2 linked regions of the Homo sapiens genome follow. The protein of the gene in region 2 interacts with the protein of the main gene of each other region in a biochemical or structural test. Each region holds a gene or a part of one and is shown on either strand. Other genes may lie near its edges.

Region 1 (7,051 bases), on a different chromosome or scaffold from region 2:
ACCCCTAAATCTTCATGGGCGTCCTAACTGTAACAAAAACCCCACAATTTGAACAGAAGAACAGAAGTATCTGGTTACAGAAGTGCATTCATACATTTCACAAATGTTTCAGTATCCTCTTCTCCCCGACCCCAGCATGAGCTTTAATTGGATGTATTTATTCTTTCACCAGCATGCCCATGAAGGAGCTAAGGAAAACATTTACCAAGTCTGTTTCAAAATCTGTCCTTGGCATATCAAACTTTTTCTCTTCCTTTTTCATGCTTTTTTTTTAAAAAAAAAACAGGAGAAAGCGAATAGAGAGGAAAGAGACAATAAAATTAATTGGGAGATGGAGATGATATTTGGGGATTTGAAAGCAAACAAGATGTAAGAGAGGCCCTCTTTGACTGAAAATGACACAGAAAAAGGTGATCAAGTCTTCCAGGGCCTGCTGTTACTGATGGAGACTACAGCTACAATGAAAAATTACTCTCACTACCATATCTTGGGGAAGGAGCGCTCTAGTTGCAAGGAATTTGTAAATAAAGGCCGAGAGACTCTAACAAACAAGATGGAGAACAAAAACAAAGATTCCATTAAAAAATTTGTTAAGTGAAAAACCAAGACCATCTCAGTGGACAAAAGAGCCAGAACTCTTCCTCGTAGAGCCGGCCGTGGGGACCGCACCTGCCGCCCAAAGAGTGGCGATTTGAGGTCCTTCTCCCTGGAGAGTGAATAGCTGGAGTTCTGAGAATGGTCACCTTCTCTGGAGCTGTGGGTTTATTTCTTCTGATACTTGAACAAAGGAGGGCCATGGTTTTCTTGTTAAGAGCACAAAAAAATGTTCTTTTAATCTAGAATGTCCATGATTCAGGGAAAGAGGGAATTTGCTCATACTCATGGCAAAAGCATTTCCCAGCTCATGGTGAATCCTTAACTCTCCTGCTTGGTGACAGCTGTGCTGCCCTGGGTCCTGGATAAACCAAAATGCTTTGGATTCTGGAAAACGTATTGAAGAGGCATTTATACCACTATTAACTAGGAGGTATTTTAGGTGTGGCTAAGGCTCTGAAGTAATCTCAATTTTCAAAATACTGAGATTTTCTTCCCTCTCCGGGGTCTTTTCCCTCTCATTTCCTTTCCCAGCTTTAGAGTAAAACAACAAAACTTCTGAATGGATGTAACATAGGGACATTTTCATGCAATATTACTCAAAAATTGTCACAAATATATGAAAGCACCAGTCACAACACAGGATTTACTTTTACTTGCAGAATCAAAGCTATCATGTACACATGTTAGGAATAGTGAAAAGAGAACACAGACAACCGGCATTTTTTGTCGTTGTTACCATGAGGATACACCACGGGGAACATCTCCCTAAACATTTTGTGTGATCATTCTTGGAGTTCAATCTGATAGACCAGTCCAGCCTTATCTCCACACTACTCTAATGGGGAGGGGTGGAAGGAGGGGTAGAGGAGAAGGAAGAAAGAAAAAGAAAGGCACAGTGACTATACATCAATGCCATTAAACCGAATTGCATCTACACGGGACAGCTCAGCTTATCAAAGGGTATTCTAAAGACAATATTCATTCCAAGAAGGTCACACATATCTTACCTCAGTACAGCTGTCTGTTTTAATTGTTATTTTTCAAAATATGAAGCAGAAACATGAGGATTTTGGGGGGGGGGCTGGGGGATAGCAGAAAAGAAGTGACACCAATTTTATTTTTATATATTCCCCTCCTCCAGGCAGTTCGTCAGAATCAGATCTCTTAAGTCAGGATGTGGATCGGCTTGCATTCTCATAAAGGGGACCAGATCTTTAAACATGCATAGCCTAGAGTTTCCAGAATGGTTCTCCTCGCTCTCTTCAAATGCCGTGGACTAGAAAGGTGCCCACTTCACTAAAAACTCTACATCAATGTCCCAGGAGCCCGGAGGCTCTTCAGGCCCCTCTCAAAGACTTAAAGGATGGCACAGAAAAACTTCTTCTCCCTAAACGGGTTTTCTGAAGCCGGAACAGGGGTCAGGAGGGGGTCTTCCTTGGCATGTGCTTCACAGTAGGCCATCAAATCTGCAGCTGCCTTGGACACCTGGAAAGGGAGACAAAAACAACCAACACTGGAGTCTGGTACAGTCAGTCAAGGCCCAAGGCTTTAGAGCCCAATGTCCTGGCATCAAATCCTTGCTCCATGAAGCAAGATACTCAGCCTCTAAAAGCTTCTGCTTCCTCATCTGCAAAGAAGAAAGTTGACGACACTGACCTTACAGGATTGTTGCCAGCAAGTCTGGGACTAGGTTAAGGTGAGTGAGGCACTTAGGGTGCAGAACCGAAGGAGGCACTCGCTGGCAGGGGCATGCAGGTGTCAACCCTGCACTTCCATAGCCCCGCAGGTGGCTGTCTCCTTCATTTGTTTTTTTTTTTTTTTTTTTTTTTTTTTTGAGATGCAGTCTCGCTCTGTTGCCCAGGCTGGAGTGCAGTGGCTTGATCTTGGCTCACTGCAACCTCTGCCTCCTGGGTTCAAGCAATTATCTTGCCTCAGCCACCCTAGTAGCTGGGACTACAGGTGTGTGCCATGGTGCCTGGCTAATTTTTTGTACTTTTGGTAGAGACAGGGTTTCACCACGTTGGCCAGGCTGGTCTTGAACTCCTGGACTCAAGTGATCCACCTGTCTCGGCTTCCGAAAGTGCTGGGATTACAGACGTGAGCCACTGTGCCCGGCCCTCCTTCACTTTTGTGCTCCGATATCTCATTGCCCCACCCTGGTCCCAGCCCTGGTAACAAGGGTTAAATGAAAAAATCCCTGTAAATCATTTAGTGTCTGGCACATAGCAAGCTTTCCACACAGGCTAGCCATTATTATCATTTTGTAGTCGTGACTCTCTGCTTCAGGAATTGTGCTAGGGATGCCTAAAACCATGTCAATTTCCCTTTTTAAGCAGATGCAGCAGGAGATATATCTATGTATACACACACTATATAGAACATATTTTTATACTTCATATATATTAAAATTTATACCTGTGACTTTAACCAAGCATTGTGCCCTTTAGTGATATTTCACTGGGAGGTCGTCACTGATTCTGGCGATGCTGTCATTTCTTACAACATATTTGTAGCTGCTTGTTATGAGTTCCCTGTAGTACCTTCCTTCAACCATCTTCACCAGAGGAAATTTTTACTACATTAGAGCGTGGATTTAGTTTCAGGAAATAAACTAAAAGTCATCTATAGCTACATCTGGGGACTAGGTAAATGATCAACCTGGGGAATGCCATTTGGGGTCAAATTTTTACATAAAATAACACATTTCCACATGAAAGCAACACCACTGTACTACTACGAACGCCTGTCAAGTAACTACTGAAAGGATATCAAAGCAACTACTGAAAGGATAATCTAATTTAAGATTTGGGTGAATTATATTATTACTAAAGATAGTCACTGCCCCTTCCTACAAGTGGGACATACATGCCCACATGATGACATCAGACTTGCCCAGTGACATAAGCTTGCTCTGGCCAGAGAGATGTGAGCAGAATTTATGTGGATCAATTATGGGCAGAAACTTTAGGAGCCAATGCACAGTTTGCCATGTCCCTTCCTCTATACCACTTCGTCCGACTGAAATAATTTATGAGGAACCCTCTTAATTGATGCAGAGGTTTTAACAAATGGCATAGTGGCAATATCCTTGATTTGTTTCTTGTCCCAGGGCTGAGTTGATTAAAGCTTTGTCACTCCTGCCTCAGCCTCCTGAGTAGCTGGGACTACAGGTGCATGCCACCATGCCTAGCTGGTTTTTCAAAAATGTTCTTGCTATTTTGCCCATGCTGGTCTTGAACGCCTGACCTCAAGCCATCCTCCCGCCTCACCTTCCGGAGTCCTGGGATTACAGGTGTAAGTCACTGTGCCTGGCCTTTTTTACTTAAGGCTACTTCAACTTTATGATTTACTGGTTGGGTAGAGAAATCAGTTTCCTCTTCTCATCCCATAAACCGTTGAATTTTTGGGGTCTCTGTTCCCTTTGCCACAGAACAGATAGAAGCAACATTCTGGACAGAGGCTGCTCCATCTGCCAGCATCCCTGATGAAGGTGACATGGTGTGGAGTGGCAGCTGATTTATGATTGACATATGGTAGGAGTGAGAAGTGTGACTGTGCTATTGCAAACCCCTAAGAATGAAGGGTAGGGCACCTTCTGTTACTACCACAACATCTAGCCAACCCTAATTGACACAAAGAGGTACAGGTATTGGTTTGTGTATTTGTTTCCTCTGGCTGTCTTGAACAAGTCCTCACAAACTGGGTAACTTAAAACAACAGAAATTTATTCTGTTAGAGACTAGCAGTTTGAAATCAAGGCATCAGCTTGGTTGGTCCCTTCTGGAGGGTCTGAGCGAGAATCTGTTCCATGCTTCTCTCCTAGTGCCTGGTGGTTGCTGGCAATCTTTGGTATCCCTTGGCTTATAGACATATCACTCCAATCTCTGTCTCTATTTTCACATGGAATTCTCTCCTGAGTGTCTGTGTCTTTATGTGGCATTCTCCTCTCTGTGTGACCAAATTTCCCATCTCACCAGTTAGAGTTACCCTAATCCAGTATGATTCCTCTTAATTTGATTACATCTACAAATACCCTATTTCCAAGTAAGGCCACATTCTAAGATTCCAGGTGGGCATAAATTTTAGGGGACACTAGTCAACCCAATACATGATATGTATGTAAAAATCAGTCTCACTTTTTAATAGACATTACAGTACTTACAAAAATATTTTTATTTTATCCTTATTTTGTTCCAGACATTGAGTTAAATTTCCTCTTTTGATCTTCACAGTAATCCTGAGGTAAGAATTATTATCCTCTTTTTATAGATGAAAAATTGAGGCTCAGCAGATTATATAAGTTGTTCAATATCATAGAGCAAAGCACACAGCAGAAAAAGAACTTGAACTCGAATGTGTTGCCATTAAGCCACAGCCATCTGCATATAAACTACTCAAATGTGGGCTTTGTTCCAAAGGTTGAAATTGAAATTCTTTATGAAATGCTTCTATGACAAAATGAAAGGAAACAGCCTGTTTATGTCTTAGCTCTCCCACATGAAAACAAAGGACAGACTTTCAGACTGAATTGAGATCACTTTTTTTCTTCATTCTTTCTTCTTGTTTGAGCGATAGTCATTGTTACACCAAACAGGAGCTTAGCTGTTAGGCAGTGGAGACAGTAAATCAGTGATATCTAAAACTCATTTGTTACGAGGAGAAGCAGCACCGTTCATCCCTACCCGTTTGCAACACTCACATACAACTATGTAGCATGAATATTCAAAATCTTTTTATGATACAGGAAGTACTATACTAGGAAAATTTAATAACTTAGAGCTGCTCATATCTTTATATTTGAACATTTGATTCTGAATGGTTTCCTTCTTAAAATATATTATGTGTTTTATCTTGTTTCCTCAACAAGACTGCAATCTCCTGTGGGCAATGCTCCAACAGTGTCAGAATCCCAGCAGTAATTAGAATAATTGCTAATATTTATCAGCCCTTGCTATGTGTCAGAACTGTGCTAACCACTTTACATACGGTATCTTATTTAATCCTTACAACAACATTATGGGTCACAAGCTATTATCATTCTCATCTTAAATATGTGAAGTGGAGGCTTCATTAAGTGTTTGCCCCAGGTCCCACAGCTCCTGAGCTACTGAGTTGTGAGTCTCAATGTCCCTGACTTAATCTTCATGAACATTCCTCCTTTCTAACCTGTGGCTGTCTTCCTTGTCCTGTGCCTTATAATGAGTCACAGCAATCGTGTGCCTAGCAGATCTTTCTGCTTTCTGACAATCCCTGCTAACATTTTGCACACAGCTTCTTCTACATTCGTATGCCTACTTCTTCCATGAAGATTTCCCCAATAACTCCAGAAAATCTCTCCCTTTTCTGTCCTGTTGATTCTTCCTCCAAAGATATCTCAAATTTGGCTCCCTTCCTGTTATATCTATTGCAGCTACCCCAGTTCATACTGCAGTCTTCTCTCTTTGTGATTACTAAAATAACTTTGTAAATAAAGGCAATTAATTTGGATTACCCCAGGGTTCCACAGATCGAATTCGGGGGGTGGTATGTGAACTTCAAATAATACAAAAAATTTACATCTTTATTTTTCACTAACCTCAAATGGAAATTTAACATTTCCTCTCATTATAAATATAGACAACACACTGCAGTAGCCCTAGCAGTACATGTGACTTGGCCACTGATAGATACCAGATACTTTCAATCACATTATATTCATTGCAGACACCTCAACACTGCATTTCTGTTCATCCACCTTATGATTGTAGACCTATTAGATCTTACATAATCAGTTAACAAAGGAGTACCTATGTATAACTACATCACATATATTTTTAAAAATTGATATTTTAAATAATATTATTTAAAATGTTTTACAAAAATATTCTAATGACCCTCATGTCAATATAATTAGTTTCTTTTGTAATTTAAAAACATGATTCTAAGAAGGAGACCATAGGCTTGAGCAGACAGACAAATGAGTCAAGAGCACAAAAATGTTTAATTATCTCAGTTTTAAATGATTTCCTGTGTTCATAACTATGCAGGAGTAGTATTCTCCATACTGTAGCTAGAAAGATATTTTTAAAATACAAGTGGATTCCTATCATTCTCCTATTTAAAACCTTCAATAACTTCTCATTGTAATTTGTAGAAAACCAAAACTTTGTAAAACAGCCTGTGGGTATTGCATGTTTTGGGCCTCCCCCTCTCTCCAATTTCATGTTGTAGCATTCTTCCCTCTCAAATATCTCCTTTACTTTTTGAAAGCTCCAAGTTCTTTTTTGCCTCAGAGTGTCACATATTCAGTATCCTAGAATATTGTTCTCTTCATCTCCTCAATGGGTTGGCTTATCATCTTCCTTCAGAAGTCAGCAGAAATACCACCTCCTTGCAGAACCTTCACTGATCGCCTCATCCACAGTGACTTTCCTGATTATTTTCTCTCAGAGTACTTTCTCACATTCTTCTCTTT
Region 2 (3,496 bases):
ATAACCCAGACGACTTGTTTCTGTGATTTCTCAATCTTAGCAGCACTGTGCCTTCTTTAGAGAGGAGGAACATCAACCACTAGAGATGAGGCAGTAAAGTGCCCCCACATCAAAAAATGCAGCTCCTCTTTCCCAACATTTTTTAGAACCTTCTCATGAACTGTACTTTTAAGTAAAGCACATCTCGAAGCTTCTATTTCCCTGTCCCTATACACAGCAAGTGGCATATGCTGCAGAGAAGTCAAAGAAAATGTTTGTGAAAAACATTTCTTCCATATTAAGTACCAGACCGCCTGGGCATTCTTGACAATAAACTCTGGGGAAAGAAGCTATTTGTGCTTGGTCCTGCTGGCCGGTTCCTTGGTGAAGAGTTCTGATGGCATAATGCTCAGCAGTAGTCCCACAATAATTTGGGAAGTGTTGCCAGTATTTAGAGAACCCCGTAAATGAAATTAGACCAGTGTTCAAGCCAATCCATGCCAAGGAGCCAAGAGGAATAATTAAAGGAGTGAATGTTTTATTCTTTAGTGTTTAATTGAATACATAACAAGTCACATAATCAATGATTCATTACTTCACACACAGGAAGGAAAACAGTAGCTAGTATTTCTGTTATACAACTGGTTGTGAACAGGAAGAACAAAAATCTTTATAGCATTAGATGGTTGAAGAAATTCTCAAAGTTTGGGCATGTCTGAAAAGACTTTGACTGCATCTTTTTTCAATATAAAGGGATTTTTTTCTTACATTTCTGTGTCATTAGAAAAATCTGATAATCTTATAAGATTTTTTCTGCTCTTCTTACATTTAGAGAAAATGGTTTAATGATATGTACTATTTAAAAAATCAGAATCCCAGATAACTCTGTGTGAATCTTACATTGTCTAGCAGATAAGGTTTTCAGATGCCTGGAAAAATTTAAACAACATATAATTTACATCTTCAAAATTAACATCCAGATGGATGTTTTAATCCTTTGTCACTAAATGGTTACTAACGCTGTTTGAGTGGTCATAAATGAATTGTCATTTGTATTCAATAGTAATAGCAAAATTTACCTGCCTATAAAGTCGCAAAAACAGTTGTATAATAGTTTACATTACAATTAATGTACCCATACCTCAAAACACATTTAGAATTTAAAAAAACTGGCTTGGAAAAAAATCACAAAAAATTTAAGTGACAACAAATCTTGATTAACTAGTCCATCTTCCTACCACACATGATTATACTCTAATGTAGATATTCTGGTTGAATTTCTTCCAACCAAGTTTGAAGGGCCCCAGTAGAAAATCAAGTGTTAATACTTTCAGATTTTTATTGTCCAAAACTGTTGACAAAGAAAAGCTAACTTCAACATAACTTGTTTCTGGCTATACAAAGACCTATTTCAGGTGCTACAGATACTGAAAATAGGAGTATTTTACTTATTTCTCAAGAGACAGACTTATGCCATCTAAGAAAATGAATTCAGTTTTTAAATGATTTATAGTAAGGAAAAACAGGAAAACAATTCCAAACGAAGGATTGACTCTGATAGGCTTACAACAAAAATATTCAGTTTACTATTTTAAAAACTAAATTGAGTAAAGTATTTGTGATTTAGACTATAAAATAAATTCTCAAGGAATTCAACCCCTCCAGTCAATACTTTTTCTTAATGTCTGCATTGTAATTTAGCATTTTGCATGTGGGAGTACACAAATGAATTGAATATTGGATCAGAATTTACCCTAACTTGAAGAGTAAAAAGTTATCAAAGTTTCACCTTACATGGCTTTATTGAAATAACATTCCATCGAAAATTCCAATAAAAATTGGAATATATTATGAGCACTGCCAATTGCTCATTTTGTCTGATATTAACAGATTATGCATTTCCTCAGAGAAGCAGTAGGTCCCATATATACAGACATATATATGGCTCTGGTTTGAAAGAGAAGACAATTTTGTCTAGTATTATGATTTATCACTGTGCTATCAATCAAAAACCAGTAGAATACATAACAACATTGAAAGGGAAAAATTTTTAAATCTCACATCTTCAAGGAATATTTTCTACAGCATATCATTTGAAAAAGTAGAATGAATACTGTTCATGGTCCACATGTATTAAAAAACATGTCAATTACTTGGTGCAAACACACAGAACCTGGTACCTGTTTTTTTTTTTTTTTTAACCACCATTGTCTACACCTTTTTAAAAATTAAGTTTGTTACTAAAAGTCCAATGTCATTCACTTGTATTTATGATCATCAAATGGTAATTAGGGCAACATATGTAAATGCATGCCTCTGAATCAGATTCATGCAGTGTTAATTATCTGAATAATTTATGACATTCTCCCAGGTTATTTGAATGGTATCTTTGGAGGGCTTACTCAAATGAACCCACAATACCTCCACTATTACAGCTTATAGGAAATTACAATCCACTTTACAGGCCTCAAAGGTTCATTCTGTGGCCCAAAGCCCATGGAGGGGAAGGGATCTAAAGGTGCTCATGTCAAGTTATTTTACTTGTTTTTTACTGTCTACCCAATGTAAAATGAATTTTCTTCACAGCCTTTACTTTAGGCTAAAAATAGACAGTTTTCTTGTATTGACTTTAACTTTAGAGGGGACAGTCGTCCCTGGAAAAAGAAGTAGATTTACTGTCCCTAACCATTAAATTCCCAGTCTTTCAAATAATGTGCGGGGCGGGGGGTGCTGGGTGTGACAGGGTGCAGTGAATAAGATGCCTATGTACAAGACAGTGGAATAGTTCACCTCAAAGGTTTACAAGATAACATTTGTAAGACTTGAGTGACAGAGGCAAAATTTTAGCAGTTTCTCAAGACTCTTGGAGTTGAGCAGATTTGAGAAGGGAAATCAGAATCGCCGAGCCTTGCCATCTGTCAGTGGTTTTGGTCTGTCCCAAGATGTTCTCAATCATGTGCTTCCTGTTGAACAATCTAACAAAATACCATACGGGGTAGAGAAATCTCTGCAACACTGACTTTTGGTCAGTGAATCAGAGTCCTAAATTATTTCAGGCTTCAAACAGATGAATTCTGATGCATTACTTAGTCTGAGACCAAACTCAACATACAAGCAAGCACAACTTCCTAGATTTCTGCTTCCATTTCGCCTAAAATTACAGGCTTTGTATATGAAGTCAATTTTACTTCTCAAAAAATGTTAGTCTAATAAAAGACCTGAAATCTATTTCCCAACTAAAAAAAAATTAGTGGATTAAAAATACAGGTACCTTGACTTTAAGTAGACAGTTAATCAACATATGATTAGTAATACAACTAATACTCAAGAAAAAAAGTATAATACAGCAAACTCAGTTTTACAATTATGTATTTTTTCCTAACCCAATTCCTCGATAAGGATGTAAGAAACTCATCAAAACATGTTGCTTTAGTATATAAACCAGCTGATGCAAATTACTGGGGTAATATAGGAAATTTTATAGCATTAGTAAATGAATTAAAAAACTAAATGATTC

Evidence for each region. The genes of interacting proteins can lie anywhere in the genome.
Region 1: the proteins of KCTD12 (region 2) and GNG2 form a complex in vitro, tested with the Homo sapiens proteins (one study listed by BioGRID).

The regions. Positions count from the first base shown.
Region 1 is NC_000014.9:51,961,590-51,968,640, reverse strand, and holds part of GNG2 (guanine nucleotide-binding protein G(I)/G(S)/G(O) subunit gamma-2 precursor), read right to left. Parts: intron 2,083-7,051; coding exon 1,954-2,082; 3' UTR 1-1,953. UniProt on the Homo sapiens protein: Guanine nucleotide-binding proteins (G proteins) are involved as a modulator or transducer in various transmembrane signaling systems.
Region 2 is NC_000013.11:76,879,675-76,883,170, forward strand, and holds the end of KCTD12 (BTB/POZ domain-containing protein KCTD12), read right to left. Parts: 3' UTR 501-3,496; downstream 1-500. UniProt on the Homo sapiens protein: Auxiliary subunit of GABA-B receptors that determine the pharmacology and kinetics of the receptor response. Increases agonist potency and markedly alter the G-protein signaling of the receptors by accelerating onset and promoting desensitization.